Linked DNA regions of Homo sapiens. The protein of the gene in region 1 interacts with the protein of each later gene in a pairwise test. Each region holds a gene or a part of one and is shown in the gene's direction. Other genes may lie near its edges. The genes, in order: SPATA24, PIAS4, CEP72 and PLEKHF2.

Evidence for each region.
Region 2: the proteins of SPATA24 (region 1) and PIAS4 interact in binary tests that used the Homo sapiens proteins (3 or more experiments, as listed by UniProt).
Region 3: the proteins of SPATA24 (region 1) and CEP72 interact in binary tests that used the Homo sapiens proteins (3 or more experiments, as listed by UniProt).
Region 4: the proteins of SPATA24 (region 1) and PLEKHF2 interact in binary tests that used the Homo sapiens proteins (3 or more experiments, as listed by UniProt).

The regions. Positions count from the first base shown.
Region 1 is NC_000005.10:139,401,088-139,408,980, reverse strand, and holds the start of SPATA24 (spermatogenesis-associated protein 24), read left to right. Parts: upstream 1-4,891; 5' UTR 4,892-4,920; coding exon 4,921-5,037; intron 5,038-6,232; exon of another isoform or gene 6,233-6,287; coding exon 6,288-6,353; intron 6,354-6,935; coding exon 6,936-7,066; intron 7,067-7,155; coding exon 7,156-7,226; intron 7,227-7,893. UniProt on the Homo sapiens protein: Binds DNA with high affinity but does not bind to TATA boxes. Synergises with GMNN and TBP in activation of TATA box-containing promoters and with GMNN and TBPL1 in activation of the NF1 TATA-less promoter.
Region 2 is NC_000019.10:4,002,791-4,010,750, forward strand, and holds the start of PIAS4 (E3 SUMO-protein ligase PIAS4), read left to right. Parts: upstream 1-4,945; 5' UTR 4,946-4,970; coding exon 4,971-4,997; intron 4,998-7,157; exon of another isoform or gene 7,158-7,624; coding exon of another isoform or gene 7,625-7,708; intron 7,709-7,960.
Region 3 is NC_000005.10:607,901-615,346, forward strand, and holds the start of CEP72 (centrosomal protein of 72 kDa), read left to right. Parts: upstream 1-4,439; 5' UTR 4,440-4,461; coding exon 4,462-4,543; exon of another isoform or gene 4,544-4,701; intron 4,702-6,652; exon of another isoform or gene 6,653-6,781; intron 6,782-7,446. UniProt on the Homo sapiens protein: Involved in the recruitment of key centrosomal proteins to the centrosome.
Region 4 is NC_000008.11:95,136,772-95,143,789, forward strand, and holds part of PLEKHF2 (pleckstrin homology domain-containing family F member 2), read left to right. Parts: intron 1-7,018. UniProt on the Homo sapiens protein: May play a role in early endosome fusion upstream of RAB5, hence regulating receptor trafficking and fluid-phase transport. Enhances cellular sensitivity to TNF-induced apoptosis.

The DNA.
Region 1 (7,893 bases):
AAAAAGTCAAAAACCCAGGAAACTTTGTGTGGTAGACTTAATTTGGCATCCCCTAATATTTATGCCTTTGTGTAGTCCCTTTTCTAATCGGGGCTGGCCTTTGACCTTTAACCAACAGAATGTGGCAAAACTGGCAGCTTCCATTTTTGTACTTGGAGGGAAGCCAGCTACCATGTAAATTCAACTACCTGAGACCACTACACTAACCAAAGGAGAAGCCATGCAGAAGAGAACCCAGCAACCAAGCTGACAGCAAGAACTGAGGACCCAAACACATAATTCAAGTTGAGCCATTTGTGTTACCCCAGATGATGGGCAGAGCAGAAATGTGCTGCCCCACCAAGTCCTGCTCAGTCTGCAGAATTGTGAGCAAATAATAAAATGATTGCAGCCATTTTTTTGCAGGTGCAGTGGCTCATGCCTGTAATCCCAACACTTTAGGATGCTGAGCCAGGCAGATGGCTTGAGCCCAGGAGTTCAAGACCAGCCTGGGCAACGTGATGAAACCCTGTCTCTACCGAAAAATATAAAAATTAGCTGCACACCTACAGTTCCAGCTACTAGGAAGGTTAAGGTGGGAGGATTGCTTGAGGCCAGGAGGCGGAGGTTGCAGTGAGCTGGGATCGCGCCACTGCGCTCCAGCCTGGGCGACAGTGTAAGACTCTGTCTTTAAAAAAAAAAAAAAAAAGTTGCTGTTTGAAGCCATTACATTTTATGGTGGTTTTTAGCAATAGACAGCCAAAACACCTTTTCCTTGTCCCCATATTCCCTTATTCCCTCTCTCTGTTAAGTTCCATCAATTTTACCTCCAGAATATCCTAAACCTACTCTCATCTCTGACACTATCTGACTCTCAAACTACCATCCACTTTCACTGCAGTAGCCTTCTCGGTTAAAGTGGTCTCTGTGCACTTACACAGCCCCACTCCAATCTGTATACCTCACTGCAACCAAAGAGATCTTTTCCAAGCATAAATTGGATCACGTCATCCTCTTGCTTAAAATATTTCAGTAGCTTTCTTTTGTCCCTAAAATAAAAATCACCAAAATCCTTAGCATGGCCTACCTTGCTTAGCAAGGCTCTGCCAAGTTCTTGGTCTCTACCCACTACCCAAGCCCCCTCTTGCCCTATAATCTTTTTCTTTTATGCCATGCTACCCTTTAATTACTACACTCTACCAGCCCCTTTTGCCCCAGGGACTTTGTATACACAAAGTATACACTGCTTCCTCTTTCTGGTATCCCTACCTACTCATCTGCCCCTACCCTCTTTGCTAAGTGCTTCCTAGTTACCTTAATAGGCTTCAGCTCAAACATCACTTCCTCACAGAAGCTTTCCCTTGCACAGAATCTTAGCCCCACCTGGCTAAGTTTCTCTTTAGATTTATCTGGTTGTTTGATTATTGTCTGACTTTTCCCACTAGACTAAGTTCCTGACTGGTTTTACCTGAAATGAACCTTGAAGGGAGTGGTGCCCCATCTGTCATAAGGATTTGCTCTAGAAGTGCAGCCCAAATTCTTTGACACTACTCCCATTGAAAGGTGGTGGGGTAGGGGGAGGAATCTGTGTGTCCTCCTCTGGAATCTAGACTCTGACTCCTTGACCAATAGAATACAGCAAAAATGACACTATGCCAGGTATCAGGCCCAGGCCTTAAGAAACTGGCATCTTCCATTTTCTGTCACTTTGAATGATTATCTTTAACCCAGTCTTCATGCTATCAGAAAGTCCAGGCAGCCTATGGAGAGGAACCAAGACCTTTGGTCCTCAGCCCTAGCAGAGCTCCCAGCTGACAGCACCAACTTGCCAGTCACGTGAGTGAGCCATGTTGGAACTGGAACTTCTAACTCCCCGTTGAACCATCCCAGTTCACACTGCATGGAGCAGAGATAAGCTTTCACCATTGAGCCTTGCCAAATTCCAGATTCATGAACAAAATGATTTTTTTCAATGACTTAAAAAAATTGGGGGGTGGTTTATTATGCACCAATAGATAACCAGAACATCAGCCAAAATGACAAGCCTGTGCAGAAAGGCAACCCTTCCCTGGCAGGATCACAGAGCTGTTTGTGATGTCATGTCATCCTGAGTCTCACTGAGTCCTGGTTGACCAGGAGCCCAAAGTGCCTTTCAACATATAGAGGAGTCTGTGGCAGTGCCCAACCAGGGTGACCACCCCTCATGTCCATGCCAGGAAGCAGGTGCAGACCTGGATCCAGGGTTCTCTCTTGTTCATAAGCTTCCACCCCCAGGTGGCTGCTGGAGCCTACTGCTCTCCAGGGTTTTGCCCCAAGTACGCAGAGAGCAGCCTGTTCCAGCTGGTGAAGGTGGATGTTGGATATCAAGGGACATCAAGCAGTGCCTCATGAAAGATCCTAGGGAGGAAGTGCAGTTCTTGGGGAAGGCTCAGGAATCACTGCCCCAGAAGAATGTGCAGCTTTGTGAAGGGTGATTCAGGTGAACATTCACATTTGGTACACCAAGTTCTGAGAGGGTCTGTGCTGAGGCACACAACCTACACAGTGCCCTCTAGGCACACACTTTCCAGTACAGTAGCCAGTAGCCACACATGGCCATTTAAACTAAAAATTTAAAAATTTTAAAGAGCCATGATTAAGGTGATCTTCAGAAAATAATAAAAAATTTAAAGCAATTTCTCAGTCACATGAGCTACGTTTCAACTGCTGAAGAGCCACATGTGGCTAGTGGCTATTGAATAGTGCAGCTGTAGAACATTTTCATCACTAGAAGTTCTATTGAACTGTATTGTTCTAGGCCCTTTAACAGAGGTCGGCCGGGCACAGTGGCTCACGCCTATAATCCCAGCACTGTGGGAGGCTAAGGTTGGCCGATCACCTGAGGTCAGGAGTTCGAGACCAGCCTAGCCAACATGGTGAAGCCCCGTCTCTACAAAAATACAAAAAAATCACCTGGGTATGATAGCAGCTGCCTGTAATCCCAGCTACTGGGGAGGCTGAGTTGGGAGAATCGCTCAAACCTGGGAGGCAGAGGTTGCAGTGAGCCAAGATTGCTCCACTGCACTCCAGCCTGGGCGACAGAGCAAGACTCCATCTCAAAAAAAAAAGAAAAGAAAAAAAGAAAAAAAAAAGAGAACATGGTGAAACCCTATCTCTACTAAAAATACAAAAAATTAGCCGGGCATGGTGGCGGGCGCCTGTAGTCCCAGCTGTTCGGGAAGCTGAAGCAGGAGAATGGTGTGAACCCCGGTTGGGGCAGAGCTTGCAGTGAGCCAAGATCGCACCACTGCACTCCACCCTGGGCATCAGAGCAAGACTCCGTCTCAAAAAAAAAAAAAAAAAAAAAGAGAGAGAGGTCAGCAGAGATGGCCTTGTCTCCAAGTCCATGAAAATAAACGCAAGAAACAAAACAAGGGCTCCCGCTGAGAGAACCACAGGGATGGCCAAGTTTGTCAGGCCCCCCGGGGGGTTTTGGGGAGCGGCTTGAATGACTTACCCTGAGCTTTCTGCCTCCTTTCATAGTCACTGGTAACTTTTTTTCCAAACTCCTTGTTAGTATAGTCATTTCCTACTTGGGGGTATCAAATTCCATAACTTCCACCCATGACGTGCAACACAAATGCAGCACAACATCCTGGTTAAGAACATGAACTCCAGGCCCAGCGCGGTGGCTCATGCCTGTAATCCCAGCACTTTGGGAGGCCGAGGCAGGCGGATCACCTGAGGTCAGGAGTTCGAGACCAGCCTGGCCAACATGGTGAAACCCCGTATCTACTAAAAATAAGAAAATTAGCCAGGCGTGGTGGCGGGCGCCTGTAATCCCAGCTACTTGGGAGGCTGAGGCAGAAGAATCCCTTAAACCCGGAAGGTGAAGTTTGCAGTGAGCCGAGATCACGTCCCTGCACTCCAGCCTGGGCGACAGAGCGAGACTACATCTCAAAAAACAAACAAACAAAAACACGGACCCTGGAACCAAACTGCCCATAGCAGAACTCCGTTCCACAACTTACTAGAGTGACCTTGGGCAAGTTATTCATTCTCATTCTCATAGAGCCTAGGTAAAAAGGGGCTGATAGGAGTTCCATGAGGGTCACATGAAATAATATAAACATAACGGTGCCACGAAATAGTGAACACAATATATATTCGCTCTGATGTTCTCCAAACCTAATCTTATTTGGGTTTCCAAGAAAAAAAAAAAAGCCTTCAATAGAGACTTGGTGAGTGTGCGTAATCACCGTATCCTTCCCTGACTTCATTTTACTAAACTCTCCTCCTTCAAGCCCTCTTCAGTCCTCCTAATCTCTTCAGGGTCCTCCTCCTCGGGTGGTGGCACATGACTCTAGTGCAGACTCTAGTGCCCAGAGCCTGGTATCAGAGTATGAAGACTTTGATCTCAGGTGTAGCCATTCTCATTTTTTATCTTCGTCTATCTTCCGTGCTTAGGCTTAGGACCCCTAAGTACTAAGTGTGTTCCAGGAGGCTGGAATCTCATACAATGGAGGAAATTTGGAGATTAGGATAAAGATTTGGAGAAAGAGGCATGAGAAGCTAAAGATGCAGGAGTTGCCTATGCTGGCTCTTGCTTCGTGGTCATGCAGTTTAACAGGCCCTGGGTGAAGGCTGAGGGCTGCTGTTTTGAGTGTTGCCTGCTCGCAGGCAAGGAAAGTACAAGCCGGGCCCTGCCGGCTTCTCAGGACTGCGTGAGAAACAGAAGACGCAATAAAAGCGCAATTTCCTGTAAACTTAAATGCCTTAAGGGTTGTCAGCAGTTTCCCCGCTCCAGGCGGCTCCTTTAAGAGGCGGCCCCTCGCCCCGCTAACATAGGAAGTCCCCGCCCCCCGTTGCCAGGGTGCTCTGTGGCGTCGCATTCTCATTGGTGGGCGACGGCGAGGATCACCCCCGAGGCAGCCATTTCCAACTAGCTGGCGGGGGCGGAAGATGGCGACGCCCCTCGGGTGGTCGAAGGCGGGGTCAGGATCTGTGTGTCTCGCTTTAGATCAACTGCGGGACGTGATTGAGTCTCAGGAGGAACTAATCCACCAGCTGAGGAACGTGGTATGCAGCCAGAGGAGTTTGGGGAGAGGCGGGGCCGGATGCCTCACTGGTGGGGGCGGGGCCAGAACCTGTTCCGATGCGGGGGCCGTGGCTAGAACGCATGGCCCATGGCGTCATCAGGAGGAGGCCGGGCTCAGTCGGTAGGGGTGGAGCCAAAAAGGGGCGGACCTTCCTGAACCAGGGAATTTTAACTAAAATCAAGCCATATTCTCCCTTCCGTTTGCCTGGTTGCTGCAAGAGCTGGTAGAGAGTCCCTGAGCCTCAGTTTCCCCATTTTCAGTGGAGATGACGTCACTGAGTTCCCATGGCCCTCCTGTGCAGGCAGAGAAACTGTCATCCCTTCTATTATGGACACCATTCCCGAGAGTCAAAGGCAGTGCCGTGTTGAATGCAGTAAGCGCAGATTTGGCCCTTGCCAGCGCTAACTTAGGGGCCTCCAAGAACTTTACATGCCTTAGCTTTTGCCTTCTCAATCAAACCCCAGCTAATGGGTGCAAAGCATTGCAGTCACAGATTACCTGGGTAGGCATGATAGAATCCTGGCCATCTGGAGTTCATGGTTTTTCTGGTTTTGTTTTCCTGTCTTGATAAGAAGGTTAGGATGTATCTCCATCTCAGAAATAAAACTGGCTTCACATCTACTTCTCATTCTAAGTTGTTCTTAGACAATTTCTTCCCTTCTGGGAAGTTGAATGTGGGGGAAAGGGGAGAGAGACCTGTCCTATTTGCTACCCTAATGCTCTCATTCAACAAAATATATGGAGCTCTAGGCACTGAATTGCCTTTGATTCCCTGAAGGTACCCAGGTCTTCCTCTTGGCAGCTGACCTTGGCATGTGTGTCCCCACCATCCAGAGTGCTTTTCTCTCTATCCCTCTTCTGGCCCACCCTATATAGCAGTCAGATCTCAGGTCTAACATCCCCTTCTCCGGAAGTGATTCTGACCCTTCCCCAGGCTGGGTTGGGGCCTCCTCTGAGCCCCAGATCCCCTTATGTCTCCCCATCAAGGCACACAACATGTTAGAAGTGCTAACTGTGGACTGCCTCCTCCATGAGACTGGCTGCTCCTTGAGGGCAGCACTTAGAGCTGAGTCTCAGTTTATCTGTGGAACTGAATTCTCCCTTCCCAAGGCCTCAGTCTCATCCTAGGTACCACGAGCATCATCCTGTTATCCGCTTTTGGTCCTGGTCCCTAGAGGGCGCCCCTTCTACTCCAGCCCCAGGCCCTCCCTCAGCCAGGCTCTGTTGCAGATGGTTCTCCAGGACGAAAATTTTGTCAGTAAAGAAGAGTTCCAGGCAGTGGAGAAGAAGCTGGTGGTAAGTAATGGCCTCTGCGGTCTCCTAATCTTCCCCCGTTTCCCAGGATCCCTGTGGTTAGGCAGGCTCATTAAGTATTAGCCTCTGATGGGTGCAGTGGCTCACAACTGTAGTCCCAGCTCTTTGGGAGGCCAAGGCGGGCAAATCACTTGAGGTCAGGAGTTCGAGACCAGCCTGGCCAACATGGTGAAACCCTGTCTCTACTAAAAATACAAAAAAATATATATATACATATATATATATTAGCCAAGCATGCGTGGTGGCAGGCGCCTGTAATCCCAGCTACTTGGGAGGCTGAGACAGGAGAATTGGCTTGAACCCAGGAGGTGGAGGTTGCACTGAGCTGAGATCATGCCACTGCACTCCAGCCTGTGCAACAGAGTGAGACTCTGTCTAAAAAAAAAAAGAAAAAAGAAAAAAGAAAGGTCGGCCTCTGAGAACCTCCAGCCCCTGTAGCAAGGTGGCCAGAATCTCCCTGTGCTCTGGCTTCTGTGTGTCCCTCTGAGAAGGGGGGCTGGTTAAGGGAGTCTAGGAGACCCAAGGCGGCCTAGGGTAATGAGGTGACTGCTGCTGCCCCTGCAGGAAGAGAAAGCTGCCCATGCCAAAACCAAGGTCCTCCTGGCCAAGGAAGAGGAGAAGTTACAGTTTGCCCTCGGAGAGGTAGAGGTGCTATCCAAGCAGCTGGAGAAAGAGAAGCTGGCCTTTGAAAAAGCGTGAGTGGGCCTCAGTACGGGGTGTGGGGTTTGGGGGATGCATCTGCTTGCTAGCCTGCCCACCCTCCCATCTTATCTTCCCCACCCAGGCTCTCCAGTGTCAAGAGCAAAGTCCTTCAGGAGTCCAGCAAGAAGGACCAGCTCATCACCAAGTGCAATGGTAGGCGGGAGGCCCGTGCTCTCCACCACGGTTATATAAACGGGCTCTTTCCTAACCACCCAGTGCCTGTGTCAAAGGCAGGGTTTCACTCTAACACCTGTCCCCAGCTGAGGATACAGGCAGGCCCGGGTGGGCCACACCTTCGAAAAGGCCTTAAGGGACCAGGCAGGCCACGGAAATGAGGGAAGCAGTCGGTGTACTATATTCTTCACCGCCATAAAGGAATGGGCTTGCTCCCATTTTTCCTGAAACATACAACCTTCTTAGTCCACCTTTTGTTTTCCCACTTTTGATGGGTTACTCCTAACTGATACAAGAGGAACACAGGGCAAGCACTGTCCTATTTGGGACCTGATCCTTAGTCTCAGGGTCAGGACTCAATAGGGAAGGATGCATGTGGTGACAGGGGGCTAGGATTGCCAGATCTTTAAAATGGAAACTAAGAGTTATTTTTATTTTTCTAAGACTGGGTGTCACTATGCTGCCCAGGCTGGTCTCAAATGCCTGGGCTCAAGTGATTCACCCACCTCAGCCTCTCAAGTAGCTGGGACTACAGGTGTGAGCCACCATGCCCAGTGAAACCAAGTTGTTTTATTTTTTTTGAGATGGAGTCTTGCTCTGTTGCCTAGGTTGGAGTGCGGTGGCACACGGCTCACTGCAACCTCCA
Region 2 (7,960 bases), on another chromosome or scaffold:
CAGGCACCCAGCCCAAAACATATTTTAAAACACAGACACAGTACCATGATTACACAGAACCTTCAAACCACAAGGGTTGCAGGAATCTACAAGTGAGACAAAATTTCTCTCAACTGCCAAGCACGCTGTCTCATGCCTGTAATCTCAGCACTTTTGGGAGATTGAGGCAGGTGGATCATTTAAGGTCAGGAGTTCAAGACCAGCCTGGGCAACATGGCGACACCCCGTCTCTACTAAAAATACCAAAATTAGCTGAGTGTGGTGGCGCCCGCCTGTAATCGCAGCTACTCAGGAGGCTGAGGCACGAGAATTGCTTGAACCTGGGAAGCGGAGGTTGTAGTGAGCTGAGATCGCGCCACTGCACTCCAAACTCGGCAATAGAGACTCTGTCTCAAAAAATAATAATAATAAATAATAGAACCAAACACACACAGAGGAAGGTACATGTAAAAACGGGTGCAATCGAAATAATGTCTGCACTCGAGTTGATTCCATTATACTAACATCAACGCCCAGGTTTTGACAACATAACATGGCTATGTAAAACTTTTTTTGAATCTTTTTTTTTTTTTTTTTTTTGAGATGGAGTCTCGCTCTGTCACCCAGGCTGGAGTGCAATGGCGCAATCTCAGTTAACTGCAACCTCCGCCTCCTGGGTTCAAGCTTTTTGTTTGTTTGTTTGTTTTACATGGAGCGTTGCTCTTGTTGTCTGGGCTGGAGTGTGATGGCACAATCTCGGCTCATTGCAACCTCTGTCTCCTGGGGTCAAGCGATTCTCCTGCCTCAGCCTCCTGAGTAGCTGAGCTTACAGGCTCCCGCCACCATGCCCAGCTAATTTTTGTATTTTTAGTAGAGACAGGAGTTTCACCATGTTGGCCAGGCTGGTCTCAAACTCCTGACCTCAGTTGACCCGCCCGCCTTGGCCTCCCAAAGTGCAGGGATTACAGGTGTGAGCCATGGAGCCCAGCCAGTTATAAAAATACTATCACTGGGGAAAGCTGGGAGAAAGGTGCACAAATCTCTCTGTACTATTTTTGCAACTTCTTGTGAATCTGAATCTTCACCAAAACAAATACAAATTATACTTAAAAACAAAACCTGGCCAGGTGTGGTGGCTCACACCTGTAATCCCAGCACTTTGGGAGGCTGAGGCTGGCAGATCCCTTAAGGTCAGGAGTTCGAGACCAGCCTGGCCAACACGGTCAAACCTCGTCTCTACTAAAAATACCAAAAATTAGCCGGTGTGATGATGTGCACCTGTAGTCCCCACTGCCCGGGAGGCTGAGGCAGGAGAATCACTTGATCCTGATAGGTGGAGGTTGAAGTGAGCCAAGATCCCACCACTGCACTCCAGCCTGAGTGACAGAGAGAGACCCTGTCTCAAGAAAATTAATAAATTAAATAAAATTACAAAAATGAGCCAGGTATGGTGGCACACACCTGTAATCCCAGCTATTCGGGAGGCTGAAGCACAAGAATCAGTTGAACCTGAGAGGCCGAGGTTGCGGTGAGTCGAGATTGGCACCACCACACTCCAGCCTGGGTGACAGAGCAAGACCCTGTCTAAAACAAAACAAAACAAAACAAAAACAAAAAAACCCAATCCCCCGCAGAATCAGCAGGGCCGGAATGAAGGTAAGACTCATACGTGCAATGGCAGAGCTGGGGTTTTGCTGTCAATGGACAACATTTCAACAAATCTAAGGACCTTAACCGGCTTCATTGCAATTTGCTACACTTCATTCCATAAAATAGGATAACTGTTCCAATCAGTTGGGCAGAGGAGGTTGGCTCTACAGGAAGAGAGGGGTTGTAGAGAGCAAAATCAAAGAACAGGCTGGGCGGGGTGGCTCATGTCTGTAATCCCAGCACTTTGGGAGGATCCCCGAACTCGGAAGTTTGAGAGCAGCCTGGGCAACTTGGCAAAACCCCATCTCGACAAAAAATACAAGAATTAGCCAGGCGTGGTGGTGTGCACCTGTAGTCCCAGCTACTCAGGAGGCTGAGGTGGGAAGATCACCTGAGCCCGGGCGGTTGAGGCTGTAGTGAGCCATGACTGAGCCACTGCACAACAACCTGGGAGACAGAAACCTATCTCAAAACCAACAGCAACAACAACAACAAAAACCCAACAGCAAAGAATGTGTTAACTCATTAGTGTTACCATCAGGTTGTTTCAGGCTAGTTTTTTTTTTTTTTTTTTTTTTTGAGACGGAGTCTCCCTCTGTCGCCTAGGCTGGAGTGCAGTGGCGCGATCTCGGCTCACTGCAAGCTCCGACTTCCGTGTTCATGCCATTCTCCTGCCTCAGCCTCCCAAGTAGCTGGGACTAGAGGCGCCCGCCACCAAGCCCGGCTAATTTTTTGTATTTTTAGTAGAGACGGGGTTTCACCGTGTTAGCCAGGGTGGTCTCGATCTCCTGACCTCGTGATCCACCCGCCCTGGCCTCCCAAAGTGCTGGGATTACAGGCGTGAGCCACCACACCCGGCCAGGCTAGTTTTTTTGTGTAAGGATTAAAGAAATTAAGCAGAGGGAATTTTAGGACATTGGCCACTGAAGGCTGAAACTGGCCTGTTTGGAAAATTGGTTGGCCGGATCATCTAAGGTCAGTAGTTCTCGACTAGTCTGGCCAACATGGCGAAACCCCGTCTCTACTAAAAATACAAAAAAATTAGCCGGGTGTGGTGGCGGGCACCTGTAATTCCAGCTACTCAGGAGGCTGAGGCAGGAGAATCGCTTGAACCTGGAAGGCAGAGGTTGCAGTGAGCCGAGATTGCGCCATTGCATTCCAGCCTAGGCGACAAATGTGAGACTCCTCCTGGAAAGAAAGGGAGAGAGAGAGAGAGAGAGAGAGAGAAAGAAAGAGAGAAAATAAAATAAAAGAGAAAATGGGCTGATAGGGCTCCCTCCTGGTTTTCCCAAAGGTCAGATAACAACTTAGCTTCGTCATTGTGACTTAGAATCTGAGTGTGACTAGCTGCATTTTGTTTATTCCTGTGTCTTGGTGCCTAGCACAAGAGTTTAGTCTAAAACAACCGCCTCCTATAATTTTGTCGCCCAGGCTGGAGTGTAGTGGCATGATCAAAGCTCACTGCAGCCTCCAACTCCTGGGCTCAAGCGATCCTCCTGCCTCAGCCTCCTAAGTAGCTGGGACCACAGGCGCACACTCCTACGTCTGGCTCTTTACTTAAAATTTTGGTATTTCAGGCCGGGTGCGGTGGCTAACACCCATGATCCCAGCACTTTGCGAGGCCGAGGCCGGTGGATCACCTGAGGTCAGGAGTTCATAGACCAACCTGACCAACACAGTGAAACTCCATCTCTACTAAAAATACAAAAATCAGCTGAGCGTGGTGGTGCCCACCTGTAGTCCCAGCTACTCGGGAGGCTGAGGCAGGAGAATCACTTGAACCCGGGAGGCAGAGGATGCACTGAGCCGAAATTGCGCCACTGCACTCCAGCCTGGCGCCACTGCACTCCAGCCTGGTGACAAAGCAAGACTCCGTCTAAAAAAAAAAAAATTAGCTGGGTATGGTGGTGCATACCTGTAATCCCAGCTACTCGGGAGGCTGAGGCAGGGGAATCGCTTGAACCCAGGAGGCAGAGGTTGCAGTGAGTGGAGATCGCTCCATTGCACTCCAGCCTGGGCAACACAGCAAGGCTCTCAAAAAAAAAAAAAAAAAAGGCTGGGCATGATGGCTCATGCCTGTAATCCTAGTACTTTGGGAGGTTGAAGCGGGCAGATCACTTGAGGTCAGGGGTTGCAGAAAAGCCTGGCCAAAAAAAAAATTAGCTGGGCGTGGTGGCAGTCGCCTGTAATCCCACCTACTTGGGAGGCTGAGGCAGGAGAATCCCTTGAACCCGGGAGATGGAGGTTGCAGTGAGCTGAGATCGCGCCATTGCACTCCAGCCTGGGCAACAAGAGTAAAACTCCGTCTCGAAAATAAATAAATAAATAACAATTTGGTATTTCATCCATCATGGACTCTTTTGCACTGATTTTTTTATGTTTAAAGTGTTGGACTAGCCAGGTGTGGTGACTCGCGCCTGTAATCCCAGCACTGTGGGAGGCCCAGACAGAAGGATCATTTAAGCCCAGACATTCGAGACCACCCTGGATAACATAATGAGATCCTCGTCTCTACAAAAATAAAAATAAAAAATAAATTGCACTAAAATACTTGATTATTGAAGTTTGAAATCCACTTCTACGGGCACGAAGCCACTTAGCTCCAAAGCCAAGGAGCGCTTTGGAGAAGAGGTCCCAACTGGTGCAGATCCAAGGTTTCCCATGGGTGGGGAGGCAGGATGGGGGGGGCGCCTGCAAAGAGGTGAGGGCTGTACGATCTCCAAGGAATTTGGGAGCAGGGGTCCCGCTTTTCTCCGCCGGGCGCCCCCAGCCAGCTGGTTGCCGAGCCCACGCCCCATCTGCACACCAGGACCCGGATGTGCAGCGCGCGGGGTGTCTGGGCCCGTGGAGCCTGCACCGCGCTGCGCTGCAAGGCGCCTCACTGTACGCACTGGCGGCCGTTGCGGCGGAGCAACCATCCCCTGCCCGACGCCGCCGGGAGTCTGGAGACGCACCTGGCGGCCGCCGCGCGCAGGAAGCCACGGCACCTAGCTGCATTGTTGTCGCTGCCACCGCCCCCTCTCGCCTTCCCTCCCTAGAGGAAACCGAGCACCCGTCCCCACCTGCGCAGGGCTAGTACCACTTTAAGGAGTCAGGCGCCGCCGGGGTAGGCGTGGTCGCCGCGAGCGGGGGGGGGGGCGCTGGTGTAGGACGGACCTGATTGGCCGGAGGCCCGGGCGGTGGCCGCGCGCGCCTGCGCAGGAGGCAGCAGCGCGCACCGGCGGCGGGAGGAGCGCGCGCGGGTGCTAATTGGCCCGGGCGGCGGCCCCGCCCGCGAGTGGTGAGCGGTCACGTGACGCGACGGCTGGGGGCTCCCGGCGCGGGGGACGCTGGTGACCAAGATGGCGGCGGAGCTGGTGGAGGCCAAAGTGAGTGAGCGGTGGCGGCGCCGGCCGGGGCAAGTGGGCGAGAGGGCGGGGGCCGGGCCGCAGGTCGAGGTCTGCGCCTTCTGTCCGGGGCCCCACAGCGCGGCCGGCCCGCGGCTCGCCGTCCCGGCCCCCAGACCCCGACCCCCGGTCTCAGGGTGAGGGCGGGGGGCGGGGAGGCCGGGGGCGGGGCCCTCCTGCCTCACCCAGGTCTTCGCGCCGGGGGTCGCTCCCCCGGCTTCAGGCAGGGTCCCCCCACCCAGCCCGAGCCCTTAGGGTCCCGGTCCCTGAGCGCCAGGCCAGGGCCGCGCCTCCCGGTTGAGGCACCGTCCCGCCGGGATGCGGGACGTGTTGAGCTACTCGTTGCCCTCTTGGTTCCGAGCCGGGGTCCTTGCTTTTTGGCTGGTGTGTTGGGGGGAGTGTCTGCGCCTCCCCGCCCACAGGGCTCCCAGGACTGCTATCTGGGTCTCGTCCCCGCCCAACAGGCCAGGCTGGGGTTTGCGAGTCTCCTGCTCGGAAGGGTCCCCCGAGTCCTGGATAGTGTCCTGCCACCGTCCAGGTGGAGGAGTCAGGGCCCTGAGACCACCCCCAAGACACGGCACGTCCTCTTGGGGTCTGGAGTTCAGGCTCGGTCTTGAGCCCCTCTTCAGCTCCTGCATTGGTCCCAGAACCCCGCCCCCTTCCCGACACCGTCTCTCACACGCCGGAGTGGGCGCTTGGGGGAAGGCTGGGCCCTCCCTTTCCCTCCCCATAGGATGGAGTTCGGACCACTCTTCTTGGTCACAGACCTTCTTTATTCTCCTTTTTTTAATCTTAAATCCTGGACTGTGCTTTGGTCCTACCTCGTTCCTCTCGGGACAGAATCTGAGGCTACTGATTCTGCTTCAGGGGGCTCTAAACCTCACCTGTGCAGCATCAGATACTGTCCTCAAACCTTGGCTGCTTCTCCTATTTTCTGCTCTTGAGCGAGTCTACTTCTTAGGTCAGACACCCACCCTCCCCCTACACAGCCCCCAGAACTTTTATGCACCCCAACTTTGGTTTCTAAGGTCCCCTCTCTTTCTGCCTATTCTCTTTTGTTGATCTCTGGAGGGTCCCCACTGGGTCCAAGGCTGGCCTCTTTAGAACAACTGTTGCTGCTGCTCTATTATACTTTGGGTCCTGTCCAGGTCCCATGTCCCATAGATACCATCTCCTAGCTTGGAACCACTTTTAATCATCCTGGGATTGAGCTCAGAGTATCCCCATTCCAGGGGATGTACCTTCTTGTAGGTGCCTACCTAGAGCTGAGGGTCTAAAACCCTTAGAAGTGCCCGCAAGGCCACGGCTTCCGGGGAGGTTAGGGGACCTCTCCCTCCCCCATCCCCTTTCACATCTTCCCTCCCCACGGTCCTGACCTGTACGTATCTTCTTCTCGGTCCTCTCACATTACCCCCTGGGATCTGAAAACACAGCACTCAGGGCTCTGTGATTATAGCATATACCTCTCTTCGCCTCCCAACCCTACACCCCTGCGCACACTTCTGCTCCTCTCTAGAGTTTTGAAAAGTGGAGACTCGCCCTGGAGATGTGGAGGCCTGAACTCTGTAAACCCAAAGTGGCAGGCTCTGGGCTTGAAGTGTCCTGGAGTCCTGAAATGTAACCTCCCGTTTCGGGGCTTGGAGCTGTGACCCTGGACCCCAACCCCCACCCTGGCTGAGGGCAGGGTCTGCACTCTTTTGTACCATCCAGGCCTTGAAATATGATCTGATGAACTTTCCTTAACCCTCTGGTGGCTGGGCCCCCCCCCACCCCAATTAAATCAAGTTGACCCTTCTTTCAGGTTCTCTAAACCGTGAGCCTCCATTCAAGGGGGCCTGGACCCTGGGGAACCTTCTTTCTCCTTGAGTCTGTTGCTACCTCTCCAAGTACCTTAAATGTCATTGAAACATCCCCTTCTTTACAGGGGCCTTCCCCAGCCTGTCATATTCATGGCTGCAGATTCTGTCTTTTGGGGTGCATCACAGACTGCTCGGAGGGGCGAATGTTGGGGGTTTGTTGGTGAACTTTGAAATCTGAGACTCTCAGCTTGAGGCCTGCAGGCGGGTTTGGGGCAGGGGTGTCTGTGAGCTCCCTGAAATAGTCCACAGCGTTTCGCACAGATCTCCGCTTTCCTGGAGAGAGGCGCCTTCCTGAGCTACCCCCGGTGCTCTGAGGGGCCTATGCTGGAGGAAAGGTTCAGCGCAGCTGCTGTGTCTCGGCTGATGTCTCCCCATGCGACTTCCAGGCAAGCCTGGAGTTGAAACTCTGGAAGCTGCCGGGGCCTGGCACTGTTTATAAACACAGCTCTGACGGCAAGCAGGTCAGCTTGAAGCCAGGGCAGGAAGTGATCTTGGGGCATTTGGGGCTTCTTCCTGAATGCTTGTCCCCCCCGCACTCCCTCCAGTGTCAAGGGCAGGCTCCTCCGAGGTGGCAGCTGCTGGGAAATCTGAGTCGTGAACATATGGCCACCTAAGGGGTGTGCTCCGGGAAGCGGGAGCTGCGGCTCCACTGTCCAGCCTGGGTGGGGCAGGGGCTCCCGGGGTGCGAGGATGTCAGCAGGTTCCCCAGCCCACCTGCCTTCGGCCAGTCTGCCAGTGTGAAGTGTCCACATGACATCGTCTCTCCCTGCTAAGGCTTTGGGCCACTTCCAGAAGAAACATCTTGTCTGCAAGCCTTTTTGTTTTCTGCACAAGGTAGGAAGTCAGGCCAAGGGAGATGAGGCATTTTTGTTTTCAAAGCATCCCTGACTCTCAGGCCCAGCAGACCATGCAGGTCCCCATAGCCAGTGTGCTGGTGAGTGAGGGTCCCCCGGGCAGCAGACGGGAACACCCTTGGGAGGCCAGAGGCCGAGGGGCCGATGCCAGTCCCACGCATGTACTAGGGAGGCTCTGGGCCAGCCTCTTCCCTCTGTGAGCCTCGGTTTCCTCACCTACACGATGGGTGTC
Region 3 (7,446 bases), about 140 Mb from region 1:
GTGTGGGTGGGTGTGTACGTGAGTGTGCATGTGCACGTACACCTGTGTATGTATGCGTGTGAGGTGTGTGAACTGTGAGTGTGCTGTGGCTGTGAGCGTGTGCACACGTGAACTGAGCGTGACAGTGCGAATGTGTGTGCCGCGAATTCCACTGGCCACATGAATGCAGGCGAGGCCGCTCCGCTAGGCTGTGGATTTCCAGCATGGCCACGCTGGTTGCCTGTGTTGTCTTGTTGACACAGGATGGAGAAAGAACGATGCAGGATGCATCTCTGAGCCTGGCTCAGGCACCCAGAGGGAGCTGGGTTTGGGAGCAGCTGCTCTGCGTAGCCCTGGCTTGGATGCTGCGAGCCAGGTGGGCCTGGGGTGAGCGCTCGTCCCTGGGGTGGGTGGAGGCCCCCATTTCCCTCTCAAGTCCCCTCACTGTACATCACAGCCTCCTCCCACCCCCGCTCTGTTTAGAGAAAGCCCAGAGGCCCCTCAGGCTGAACCTCCAGCCCTCTTCTCTGACCATGTGGGTCTCCCTGTTTCCTTCCGCTGGCCTGGTCTCTGTAGGGCTCACTGAGCCTGCAGTCTGGGACCCACAGGCTTGAGGATTGAGGCTCGGGGCCTGGGAGCCTCCCTGGGATGTTCTAGAAAGCTATGGATGGGGCACCTGTCAGGGAGACAGCACACGGAGAGCCTCTCCCACCTGGGTCCTACCATAGCGGCCTGGGCCTGTGGGCTTAAAGAGCCGCTCCGGAATTTAACTGGGCCTGAGGGCTGGTGCCCTGTGAGGAACCCGGGATAGAACCTGGGGACAGAGGCCTCCATTAGTCCTTGGGAGCGGCAGGTAGCCCATGGGGTCACTGTGATCCCGGCACATTGTGGGAGCGTGCGCTGGGATGGGGAGGGGTCACTGTGAGCACGGTGCGTCGTGGGAGCGTGCGCTGGGATGGGGAGGGGTCATCGTGATGATGGCACAGCACACTCTCCTGTGGTCTAGGTTTAGGGATGCCAGTGAGACCCGCTGAAGCGTTGGGGCCCTACCCGAGGTGAGGCGTGCCCAGGTCTGGGGACTCCTGTCTTGGGGCCCCTCCCAGGAGAACCACCCCCCTCCTCTGGCAGGAAGCCCCCAAAGCTGTGGAGGAGCCCTGGGCCCACAGACAGCATCCCTGCTGCTGGGGACCCCAGGCCTGTGCGGGTGCCGCTGCCATGGGGCTGATGGGGCCCAGCCCAGCAGCCCCTGCCTTTGCTTTCCCGGCTTCTCTGCGGCTCTGTGCTTTTGCTGCCCCATTCCAGGCCGGAAGGCTCCCGCGCCTCCATGGATCTTCATGATTTGGCCAACCAGAGTGAGCACCGTGAGGAAGTGGAGACAGACACAACTTTCAGCAGCAGAAGACAGGATAATAAAGTTGGGTTTGGTTTATGATCTAACGTGACCATTAAAAGTGTTTAATAAACAACGTTAAAGACTACTTAGTGGCAGATGCATCCGGCAATGCTTAGCATAGCCTCATGACTGTCAATACGCACAGGCTTGAAAAACACCTGCAGGATACATGTGGGCATGTTAGTGTGGGTTATCTCAGCAGGGCGGCATATCGAATCTCGGTGCCCTTCTGTAGTGTCTATATTTTCTACAGTGAAGCTGGGATACTTTGGTGAGCAGAGGCATTGTTTTCAAAGTTCCCATTGGTACTTCCATCACATCCCCGTGTGGTTCTGTCCTGGACCGGCTGCCCACTGAGGTCCCACTCGCCCCTACCCTGCCCTGTCTGGCCAGCTGGGTACCTGCCCAGGAGGAAGAGGCTCAGTGTTTGGGGCCTGTGTTATGCCCTGAAAAGCCACTGCTGTTGGGTGAGGGCCCATGAGGCCTTCAGTTTGCCATCGTCATGTGCTTCTGAAGAGCCAGGATGCTGTCCACTGTTTGTCTCCTGGCGGGACAGAATTCCACTCAGTGCATATCAGGGGCAGTGATGGGGCTGGGGGTGTGAGGGCTCAGCTGTGCCCTGAACTCCTTCACAGTCTTGCAGGAGGGGTCATGGAGCCATATCTGGGTTTGCAATTTTTGGAAAGTTACGTGACGATCTGCACTCAGGAATGCTGAGTGTTCGGCAGGCCCCATGAACAGTGATCAAATGTGACGCTGTGTGTCCCACAGCCTAAGGGCTGTGGCAGAGACCAGGAGGGCCATCAGCTCCCACAGCTTTCGAGTCCACCTCAGGGCTCCTCCTTGCTGACCTCCCTGGGTTGTCAGTGGAGACAGCCACCCTCCCACAGAGCACCTGCCTGAAATGGGCCAGGCCGCCCCTGTGCCCTGGCTCTTGCTGCACATGCTGAGGTCAGCACGGAGGCGCCCTCGGGCACCAGCATGCCCTCGGGTTTGCAGCTTGTCAAATATCCCATGAAGGCAACCTGACCAAATGTGCTCTAACACCACTGGACCAATGGAACGTCTTGGGCTGAACAGATGCAGCCTTGCATCCACCGCCTGCCACCACCCTCTGTGTACACCCCCTGCACACACCTCTGCACACACCCCCCCTGCACACTGTTGCACATACCCCCTGCACACAGCCTGTGTACACTCCCTGCACAGATCCCCTGCACACAACTCCCTCACACATCCTCTGCACAAACCCTGTGTATACCCCCTGCACACACCTCTACACATACCTTCACACACCATGTATACCTCCTGCACACACCTCTGCACACACCTCCTGCACACACCTTGTGTACACTCCCTGCACACTGTTGCACACACCCCCTGCACATAGCCTCTGCACACAGCCTGTGTACACTCCCTGCACAGATCCCCTGCACACACCTCCCACACACATCCTCTGCACAAACCCTGTGTATACCTCCTGCACACACATCTACACACACCTCCTGCACACACCTTGTGTACACCCCCTGCACACTGTTGCACACACCTCCTGCACACACCTCCTGCACACACTGTTGCACACACCCCCACACATAGCCCCTACACACACCTCTGCACATACTGTTGCACACACCCCCACACATAGCTCCTGCACACACCTCCTGCACACACCTCCTGCACACACTGTTGCACACACCCCCACACATAGACCCTGCACACACCTCCTGCACACACTGTTGCACACACCCCTTGCACATACACCCTGTATATACCCCCTGCATACTCCTTATGTACAGCACTGCACATACTCCCTGCAGAGACCCTGTGTGCATCCTCTGCACACACCCCTTCTGTATACTGTCTGCACACACCCCCTACATGTACACCCTCTGCACACTCCTCCTGCATACACCCCATGTACACCTTCTGCACACACTCCCTGAACACATTCTGAGTACACCTCCTGCACACCCCGTGTACAACCTCTGCACACACCCCCTACACACTCCCCTACACACTCCCCTACACCATCCACACACACTCCCTGCACACAGCCCCTGCACACATTCCCCATGTACACCCTCTGTCTGTGTATACCCTCGTCTACTACCACCATACGTACCCCCCACCACTACCCTGCCTTGTCTATCACCCCCCAGGCTGTGACATACCAGGGATGTTGCCAACGAGCTGGTCTAATCTGGGGTGAGGGTTTCTGGGTGCCCCTAGACACCAGGAGAAAGGCGGGGAGGGGACACCCCTGGGGGTCTGGATTCACTCCACCAGGCGCTGGGCCACAGTGGTACGGTGACACAGTAGATGTCTTGAGCAGGATTAAAGTCTTCCCAATAAACAGGCTGAACTCTGTCTTCCTTGAAAGCTCTGTAGAAGGACCTCACAAGGATAAACACAGCGAGACCCTCCAGGGCGCGGTCAGCCACGAGCCACAGTGCTGGGCCTGTGACATCTCTGGAGGTTCTGGGGTGGAGAAGGACCGGCCGTGGGGAGTGACTGGCTGGGGAGAAGCTCAGCTCCCGCCCACCTCTGGGAGGCCCGGGGCTGGACGGGAGGTGCAGCAGACAAGGCTCCGGGCGGGTGCTGGGGTGTCTGGAGGGGTCCCCGCGGGGGGGTCGGGTTGGGTGGGGAGTCTAGGTGAGTCGGGGGTCCCCGGGGGCGCTGGGTTCAGGGTGGGAGCGGAGTGTGGATGGGGCAGGGTCCCCATGCCCACCACCAGCCGCGATTCCACCGCGCCTACTCGGGGTTTCCCCGGGAGGACACCGCGTGTGTCAAGGGCCGGGGCCTAGAAGGCGGCCGCGCCCAGGGAAGCCTTGACAGGGAGCTATCTGGGGCGGGGGCTGGGGTCGCGTGGCCAGTACCTGGGAGAACCGCCATTCAGGAGAACCCCCCGCCAGGCTCTTGGTTCCGCCCACGCAGTCCCGCCCCCTCCCCCAGCCACGCCCCTCGCCCCGCCGCGCAGGCCCCGCCCCGTCCCGCCAGGCTCTCGGTTCTGCCGACGCAGGTCCCGCCCCTCTCGTAGCCTCGCCCCGCCCGCCGCGCAGGCGCCGTCCGAGGGCTCCGTTTGAAACATGGCGCGGGCTGGCCCTCGGCTGGTGCTGAGCGAGGAGGCGGTTCGGGCGAAGAGCGGCTTAGGGCCTCACCGCGACCTGGGTGCGCCGGAGGGCGGGCGGGGGTGCAAGCGTGAGGTGGCGGGGGGGTGGGTGCCGAGCTTCCCGGGGCGGCGGCGGACCGTGGGCAGGCGGGACCCGTCTACGCAGGCGCCGCGGGCGTCCGGAACGGTCGCGGGCGAGCGGGGCGCGCGTGTCCAGGTGAGCGACCCACCCCCCGTGCCCAGGTGCGGCCCCTGCCCGCGTTCGGGTCCCGGCGTCCCGGCCCCTGCCTGTCTATCGGGTCACTGGTTCCGTGACTGGGGGTTACATCCGCTGAGAAGAGGGAGCCGGCCTTGCTGTCCAGGAGCGCAGCCCGCCCTCCCGCTGGGGATCACCTCCCTGGTTCTCCTGGGCCCACTCTGTGGTGATTGTTGCGCTCGGCCTTCTTGAGGATGTTGGTGGCCGGTTTCCTTCTTTTTGGCTTATTTTTGTCTGGTTTTGGCGTCAAGGTGAAGCCGAGCTCATAAACTGCTGAGAAGTGTTGCCTTCTCTTATATTTAGAAGAGGTTCTGTAGAGTGTGTGCTCATTGTTTGAATGTTTCCTGGAATTTTCCAGTGAAACCATATGGACATGTCAATTTCTGTTTTTGAAGCTTTTAAATGACAAATTCTGTATCTCTGGTTGTTAGAGAACCGTTCATATTAGTTCACCGCGAGTCTTGGCTGTGTGGGGTTTTGTGGCATTGGCTTATTTGAGCTAACTTGTGGAGTGTGTGTGTTGAGTTGTTTCTGGTGTTCTGTTGTTAGCCTGTTAATGTCTGTGTGTGGTCTGCAGGTGTTACTGGACCAACAGGTTCAGTCAGGTGCTGTGGGGGCCACAGGCCAATACACTGAGACAGTGGGGTTTGCAGCAGAGAAAGAGTTTAAGGCTGGCAGGGGCCCAGCAGGGAGGTGGAAGGAGGCCTCAATCCATCTCCCCAAGGAGATCTGAGCGGTTTTTTTTTTTTAGACGGAGTCTCACTCTGTCGTCCAGGTTGGAGTGCAGTGGCACAATCTCAGCTCACTGCAACCTCCACCTCCCAGGTTCAAGTGATTCACTCAGCCTCCTGAGTAGCTGGGATTACAAGCACGCGCCACCATGCCCGGCTAATTTTTTATATTTTTAGTAGAGACGGGGTTTCACCATGTTGGCCAGGCTGGTCTTGAACTCCTGATCTCAGGTGATCCACCTGCCTTGGCCTCCCAAAGTGCTGGGATTACAGGCATGAGCCACCTACACCCAGCCTGAGCTGGGGGTTTTAGAGGAACAGGACTGTGAGGAGCTGGAAGATTGGTGTTGTCAGTTGGTGGAGGTAAGGGCCATGGAATTATCAGGGTGTGGAAACTGCATTCTTTGGTGAATCCGCTTGCGGGGCCCTTTAGACCAGCTGGCATCAGTCCCCAGGTCCTGAAAGAATATCTCAAATGGAAAACTTAACGGTTTATAATGTCCAGGTTATTATCTGTAGAGTGGTTAAGGGGAACTGTAACCTCGTGACAAAATCCAAGTGATCCTGAGGCAGTAGGCACCACAGGGCTCTGAGGAAGCAGGTGAGAGGGCAGCTGACCTCGGGACATGCCGAGTCCTCCCTTCTTCCCTGATTAGTGCTACAAGGTTTACAGGGATATCCCTTTTCTGTTCCTGATGTTGATAATCTGTGTATTCTTTCTTTTTTAGTCTTGCTAGAGGCTTGTGAATGTTATTGATAGTTTCAAAGAACCGACTTTGGGTTTGATTTTTCTCCAGTGTTTTTCTAGTTTCAAATTTCATTGATTTCTGCTTTTTTTTATTTCCTTCTTTCTGCTTGCTTTGCATTTATTTTATACTTTTCTAAATCCTTGAGGCAAAACTGTAGATTATTGATTTGAGACTTTCCTATTTTCTATTATAAACAGTGCCACAAGTTTCCCTGTAAGCACTGCTTTAGCTGTATCCACAAATTTTGTTATGTTGTATTTTAATTTTCATCCAGTTCAGCGTATTTTAAGAATTTCCCTCGATACTTCCTGTTTGACCTGTGAATTTTTTTTTTTTTTTTTTTTTTGAGGTGGAGTCTCGCTCTGTCACCCAGGCTGGAGTGCAGTGACGCAATCTTGGCTCATTGAAAGCTCTGCCTCCTGGGTTCATGCCATTCTCCTGCCTCAGCCTCCCGAGTAGCTGGAACTCCTGACCTCATGATCCGCCCACCTCGGCCTCCCAAAGTGCTGGGATTACAGGCATGATCCACCGCGCCCGGCCTGACCTGTGGATTTTTAAGGAGTATGTTTTTAACGTTCCATGTGTGGATATTTTCCTGTTATTTTTCTGTGTGATTCCATTATGGCCAGAACATAATCTGTATGATTTTAATTCTTTTAAATTTGTCAGGGTTTGTTTTATGATCCAGCATCTGGTCTATGTTGTTGAATGTTCCAGGTGCACTTGAGTGTGTGTGTATTCTGTTGTTGAGTGGAGTGTTATGTAAATACATAAATATCAATTAGATCCTGTTGGTTGGTGATATTGTTCAGTTCTTCTGTATCCTTGCTGATTTTCTGTCTAGTGACTCTATTAATGACTGAGAGAGGGGTCTGGAACCCTTAACTGTAATTGTGGATTTGTCTGTTTTTTTTTTCACTTTGTATGTTTTGAAGCTCTGTTTGTTGAATTACATAGCTAGGATTTTTATACCTTCTTAGTGGACTGACCCTTTTAGTATATGTAGTCTTCCTCTTTTTTTTTTTTTTTTTTGAGACAGAGTTTCCTTCTTGTCCCCCAGGCTGGAGTGCAGTGGCACGATCTTGGGTCACTGCAACCTCTGCCTCCCGGGTTCACATGATTCCTCTGCTTCAGCTTCCCGAGTAGCTGGGATTACAGGCGCCTGCCATCACGCCTGCCTAATTTTTGTATTTTTAGTAGAGACGGGGTTTCACCATGTTGGCCAG
Region 4 (7,018 bases), on another chromosome or scaffold:
AGCTGCCTGCTTAATATTTAAAAGCAATGTATGTGTTGACTTAACTGAATAAAAAATACTTCATGGATACACTTTCACAGTGCTGTTTTAAGTTGGAAAACCTCTCTAGGTTAAGGTGTTTTGTAATTCTATAATGCCTATAGAATTCGGGGTTTATTTCCTGCCCCCACCCAAGATAACTTTCTCCCCTGTCAAACTGTAAACCACAAACTAATGTGCTCAATTTAGGGAGGTCCTGAGAAGAGAATAAAAGGCATTCAAATAGTTGCTGTGAATGCACTGGAAAGAAAGCAAGTTGCATGTAGGATGGACTGGAACAAATAAACCTTGTCCTGACTCAGCTCCTTGCTGGCTTGTGACTCTTGAACAAGCCGCTTCACTTCTGTAAGCTTCACTGGACTCATTTGTGAAATGGGCACAGAAATATTTGCCTCAGTGTTAGCGTGAGGGTCACCCAAGATTCGATGTTTGTGGAAGGGCCTGGAATACGATAGTAGCTATTATTTTAACAAATGAACAGAGTGGCAGTGAATTATATAGAATCATAGAATTTAAAAATTTTTAAAGGGAAGCAGCCTGTAGGAATACCTAGTTCAGTTTTCAGCCTTGGCTGCACATTAAAATCTCCTGAAGAGCTACTTAAAAAGAATATTGCCTGGATCCCACCCCAGGACAAATAAATCAGAATTACTGGGTTTGGGGACAGAACAAAGGTAATTTTGCCTCTTTGTTAAAACATCCCCGATTTTAGTGTTCAGTCAGGTGGAGAACCTTTGATTTAACTCAATTTCCCATCTCCTTTCTTATGCTTTTCATTTTGTAGTTGAGTAAAATGCAGAGGGGTTAGCTGCCAGCCAGATTCCTATCAGTCAGGCTAGAAAGGATGTATTAAATATTTGCAGCTGAGGAAAGTGAAGTGCATAGAGGTTAAGTAAGGGTTACATTCATTTCTGGCCAGAATGGCCACATTTGGAACTACACTTCACTAACTCCGGTGACCCCCACTGCTACTCTACAACAGCAGCCTGCATGTTGTGACCATGTTACTTGTCATCATTCAGAACCACTCTACCTCAGGTCTTAAACCCTGTGGCCAGATGGCGATGCAAGGGTCTGTTTTCTCTTTCTCTTTTCTGTCATAACTGGTTAAGCAGCTTTTTGTCCTTATTGTCACCTCCAGTCCCTCCTAGGCCATTAGTTGTCTTCCCTCTTTTCAACCTTGAACTCTGTAGTTCATGTTCTAACCATGAACTCACTAGACCACATAGTCCCTCCTCTCCTTGACCTTTGCTGGGTGTAACTGGTCAGTTTTCTACCTTTGTCCCTGCCCTACACTCTCCCCCAAAGTCACGCTTTTGGTGATCATTACATACTTGTTTTCTACCTGCTTTATACTAGTTACTTTCTAATCCTTTTCTTATCCCCAAGTTGACTTATTTTCTCTGTTGCTTTTTCACTCCAGTCAGGTTGCTAACCCCAGTCTCGAAACATGTTGAGCAGATGACCTTACTTCCTTCTAAAATGATTAAGATTTTATGATGTGAATTTTCTATTTTCTTCTTTGCACCAACTTCTTCATCTTCCCCCCCCCCCCGCCCCTTTTTCAGAAGTGGAACTATTTTTAATTCTTTGTACTTGTTTCATTTAAACAACAGTTGGGGAAAAAGAAAGATTTTTGTGTTCTTTGCTCACATTTTTATTACTTGTACATATAACTGTATTTTACTTTTTATACTTATATTTTTCTACACATTCTTCTTTGTATTTTCTTCCCAAACTAAAAGGCTTTGTCTATGAGAGAATGTGTTCATTATAAGATAATTAGGCGTATCAAAATATTATTAGTCTAGTGCTTAGAGATAACCACTACTGACTTTTTGGTGCATATCAGCCACTTTTAAATAACAAGTAGGCTTATACTATATGTGCTATTTAGAAACTTTTATTTAATAAAATGCTTTAACAATATTTCACATTAAATATTGTGTTTTCTAAAAAACTGCCTAAAAATTAATGGATGTGCCATAATTTATTTAGTCTCCTATTGTTAAATATTTAGGTTGTTTCCAGCTTTTCTATATTATAGACAAAGCTACAGTGAACTTCATGTGAACAACTTTGTACACTTTTAATTTTTGTATGTATTATTGGAAATAGAATTGTTGTATAAACTTTCTAAAGCATTTCTATTGCCAAAATGGCATTTAGAAAAGTTGTTCCAGTGTATATACAGTATTGTCAAGAATATAAGGGTCCATTTTTACCACATCTTAGGTGAGTAATATATGAATATCATTTTAATTTTTATTTGATTGGGACTGAGTGTCATTTTTTAAATTTACTGGTCATTTTCATTTTTTTAAAATTGACATTTGTTTCTTATTTTTCTGTTGGGATATTTTCCTCTTTTCTTGTGGATTTACAGGAGCCCTTTGCATATTACAAATGTTGGCCGGGTGCGGTGGCTCACACCTGTAATCCCAGCCCTTTGTGAGGCCAAGATGGGCAGGTCAGATTGCTCGAGTCCAGGAGTTTGAGACCAGCCTGGGCAACATGGCAAAACCCCGTCTCTACAAAATACACAAAAATTAGTTGGGCAGGGTGGCATGCCTATAGTCCCAACTACTCAGGAGGCTGAGGTGGGAGGATCGCTTGAGACTGGGAGGTAGAGGTTGCAGTGAGTTGAGATTGTGCCACTGCACTCCAGCCTGGGTGACAAAGCAAGACCCTGTCCTGTCAATCAATCAATAAATGTTGACCCTTTGCCATATTACTTTAATGTTCTTCCCCCAATTATGAAGTTTTAAAAGTTTAGGTAGTAAATTTTTTCTTTTATGATGGCTTTTTGTGATACATTTAACTATTCCTCAGCTAGAAATTTAGGTTTTATTTTTCACTATTAGAGTTAATGCCAGAGGGAAAACTTTTTATGTGCCACACCCCCTCCACCCCCTTTCTCCAGTTTATTTCTCCAGGTTAAATTTTTGTGGGTAAAAATTTCAGATATTTTATTGTTACACATTGCCATTAGTCCTTGATTTTTTTTTTTTTTTCCCATGTGTCCCACTGCTGATTGTGACCTTTTGGCAGGTTATTTAGTCTCTGAGAGTTGTGAAACATATGAGAGCAGGTTGAAAAGGTGCTTTGTGCTCCTTTGTGTCCCGTTCTTTTTTCCCTTAAATTTTCCTCCTGCTTTCTAAACTAGGGGTTCCCCAAAGTTTAGTCCTCTGCTCTCGTTTTTCTTCCAGCATCAGCCAGCATCTCTAGGTGGGTGACTACCAAATCTCTCTGTCCTGGAGCTCCCTGCCCATCCTGGCATCTCTGTCCCGCAGATGTGTTTGTCTTGTGGATGCCCTGGAGGACTTCAAGATAAACATGTCCCAAACTGATTTCTTCTCTCTCCTAAAACAAAGCTAGCATCTGCCCAGTGGCTTACCCTTAAGCCTTTGAAGTCATCTTACAGTCCTTTTTCATCCATGTGTTCAGTTATTTCCTAAATCCTATCTGCTATGCCTCAGTTATCTGCCAATTATTGTGGTTCAGGCTTTTCTTACCTTTCATTTAGAGATTGTTGTAATCCTCATATGACTGGTTTCTTTGTCTTCAGTCTTGCTTCTTCATATTCTCTTCAGTCCATCCCGTGTACTGCTTCTGTGTCTGATTAATATTTTCCTATTTAAAAACCTTTGTCTTCCCATGGCCTGTGTAATAAAGTGTAAACTCTTCTATCTGATGGTTGCTTTCTTTTGCAGTTTGTCTCATCCCTATCTTACCAGACTTCTTATCACTATGCCTTCTCCTGACCTTGCCTCCTCTGGCCTAGGCTCCATTATTTCCTCTCTGGGGGAATAGTCTTGTGTACCATCATCCATCCCCAAACCCCAGATAGTTTGAGCTACTACTTTTGCTTTAAGGCCCAGCTTGAATTTCTGGTCCTTACAAGACCTGTTCCTAGATGTTCTACCTGGTCAAAATTACATCCCACCTCAACTCCTTGGCCCTGGGACCTTTACCACTGTTTTTTTTGTTTTGTTTTGGTTTGTTTTAAGTTAAAAAGTTTTTGGCTTGTTTTTCCTCTGCTGTTTTAGACTTTGCACAGATTTAAGTTAATTGTATACCTCAGTTTATAGCACATTATAGGGATACCAAACCCCTTCCTTGTTTTGTTTTTTTCCTTCTTTGTCAGTTACTCCCATGATAATCTTTCCTATAGAAACACAACTGAATTATATATACTTGTCTATATAAATATGAGAATATAGCTGTCTTTCTCTTCCTCAGAGGTTTTCAGTTTTGAGTATCTTCTGTCCTTTAATACTGCTTTGCACAGAGCAAGTGATAATAAATGTTTGACTACTTGAAATTCATTAAAAATTAATGGTTTTATTTGCTTTTGAATTAATCACTTAGACTAAAACCCTGGAGATTAATTTTAGCTTTACTCTTCTATATCCAGTCTGCAATTCTGAATCTGACCTATCCTTTATTTTCCTATTGTAAGCTTCAGACTCTTCATCAACTTTCCCCTCTATTTTTGCAGTTACTTTTCAACTGGATCCTGTTTTCAGTCTCTTCCTTCTCAATTTATCTTTCGTTGTTTCTATAGTTATCTAAGAAAAATCCAGATCAGATCAGGCCACTCCTTCCAAAAGTTTCAGAAGGAAGTCTTAGATATTAACAAGATTTTGTGTTATTTTTCCCCCCTTTTCCCACTAAATAACTCCCCTACAGCCTCTGCTGCAGCTGTACAGTGTAACTTTTTTTTTTCTTTTGAGAGGGAGTCTTGCTCTGTGGTTCAGGCTGGAGTGCAGTGGCACGATCTTGGCTCACTGCAACCTCTGCCTTCTGGTTTCAAGCAACTCTCTTGCCTCAGCCTCCCAAGTAGCTGGGACTACAGGTGCATGCCACCACACTTGACTAATTTTTGTGTTTTGTTTTTTTTTTTTTTTTGGTAGAGACGGGGTTTCACTGTTGGCCAGGCTGGTATCGAACTCCTGACCTCAAGTGATCTGGTTGCCTCGGCCTTCTAAAATGTTGGGGTTACAGGCTTGAGCCACTGCACCTTGCCCAGTGTGACTTTTTATGTGCGTTTTTACTTGCAAAGCTTTGTGCCTTTATTTAGCCATTTTTTTGCCTTCTTAAATTCCGCTCATTCTTCACAACCTGTTTTCAGTGTTCAAATGCTGTATTCTCTGTGCCATGCCCTCACTCTTTGCTTTTTTTGCTTCCTTACTACTTTGCTAATGTTTTTAGTATAGTACTTATCTCCTTGTGTTTTGTATTAACCTTGTGGCGTATATCTTATTTCCTAGTGTCTGCTTTGTTCTTTTTTTCCACCAAACATAAACCTTGAATGTAGTGAGCAGGTTGTAACTGTTTTGAATGATACTAAAGAAAATTGGTCAGGGATGTCACAGGATAACTAATTCCTCAGTAGTGTTTTAGTTGAGCTTTACCAGGTTTATTTTTCAGATATTATTTAATTAATTAATTTTTTTCTTGAGACAGGTTCTGGCTCTGTGGTCCAGGCTGCAGTGCAGTGGTGCAGTCATGATTCACTGCAGCGTTGGCCCCCCAGGCTCAAGCTGTCCTCCCGCCTCAGCCTCCCGAGTAGCTGGGACCACAAGTGCACACCGCCACACCTGGCTAATTTATGTAATTTTGGTAGAAATGGGGTTTCACCATGTTGTCCAGGCTGGTCTTGAACTCCTGGTCTCAAGGGATCTGCCTGCCACGGCCTCCCAAAGTGCTGGATTACAGGCTTGTGCCATTATGCCCAAGCTATTTTTTAGATATTATCCAATGCTTTCTTTACAGCTGTCAGCACTGTACAGCTGCCCCTGTACAAATACTTTTAGAAATGATGTGAGTTTTTGAATCTGAGTTTTGTGATGATGAAAATATGCACGTAATCATCATTTTTTATTTACTAACTAAACAGCTGTGCTTTTTGGAGAAAGAAATCATTTATATATATTACCATGAGATTGAAATTTTTTAAAAAACAGGATCTGCCTTGCTCAATACTTAGAATTTTTAATTACATACTGTACTTAAATGGGCCACAACATTTGCTTGTAAATTTAAAATCTGTGGGTCCAGTGAAGCAGTTGATGGGTAGGGTGTGGTTCCTGTTTTCTGTGAAAATTAATATAGATGTTAAAAATGAAGTCTTTGATTTTCATCAAACTCAAGATTGGGAGCTGCTGCCACTTCTAACTGCTGATTGTATTCAGTTCAGTGCACATTGGCACATTGATGCCATTTATGCAAGCATTTTTTTTTAGGTGCTGTTGCAAATACAAAGTTGGAGGAAATAATCTTTTTTTTTTTTTTTCTTTTTTTTGAGATGGAGTCTCGCTCTGTCGCCCAGGCTGGAGTGCAGTGGCACTATCTCGGCTCACTGCAAGCTCCGCCTCCTGGGTTCGCGCCATTCTCCTGCCTCAGCCTCCCAAGTAGCTGGGACTCCAGGCGCCCGCTACCGTGCCCGGCTAATTTTTTGTATTTTCAGTAGAGACAGGCTTTCACCATGTTAGCCAGGATGGTTTCGATCTCCTGACCTTGTGATCCGCCCGCCTCGGCCTCCCAAAGTGCTGGGATTACAGGCGTGGGACACCGCGCCCGGCCTGGAAATAATCTTTTTTTAAGGAACCTCCACATCTGTTGGGAATGAGCAAGTACACACATTTTTATGAAACAAATAGACTATAAGTGCTATAAAGTGGTGCAAATAAAATGGTGTGAGGATTCACCTGGCCACAGGATATACCCAGCCACAATATTTGGCTGTGAGGCTATCGAACTGAGTGTGTCTTGAAGAATTGGTGAGATTTCAGTAAATAGAGAAGAACAAAGGAGGGAGGACATGCCGAGCTTAGAGGTAGGGAAAGAAGCCCAGAGCATATTCTGGTAATAGCTAGTAGTCTGGTTTGACTATAACAGAGAATGTAGAGAAAGAGGTAAAACTGGAAAGATAGATTGCAGCAGGTTAGGACTTGACTGTGAAGGGCTTTGAATA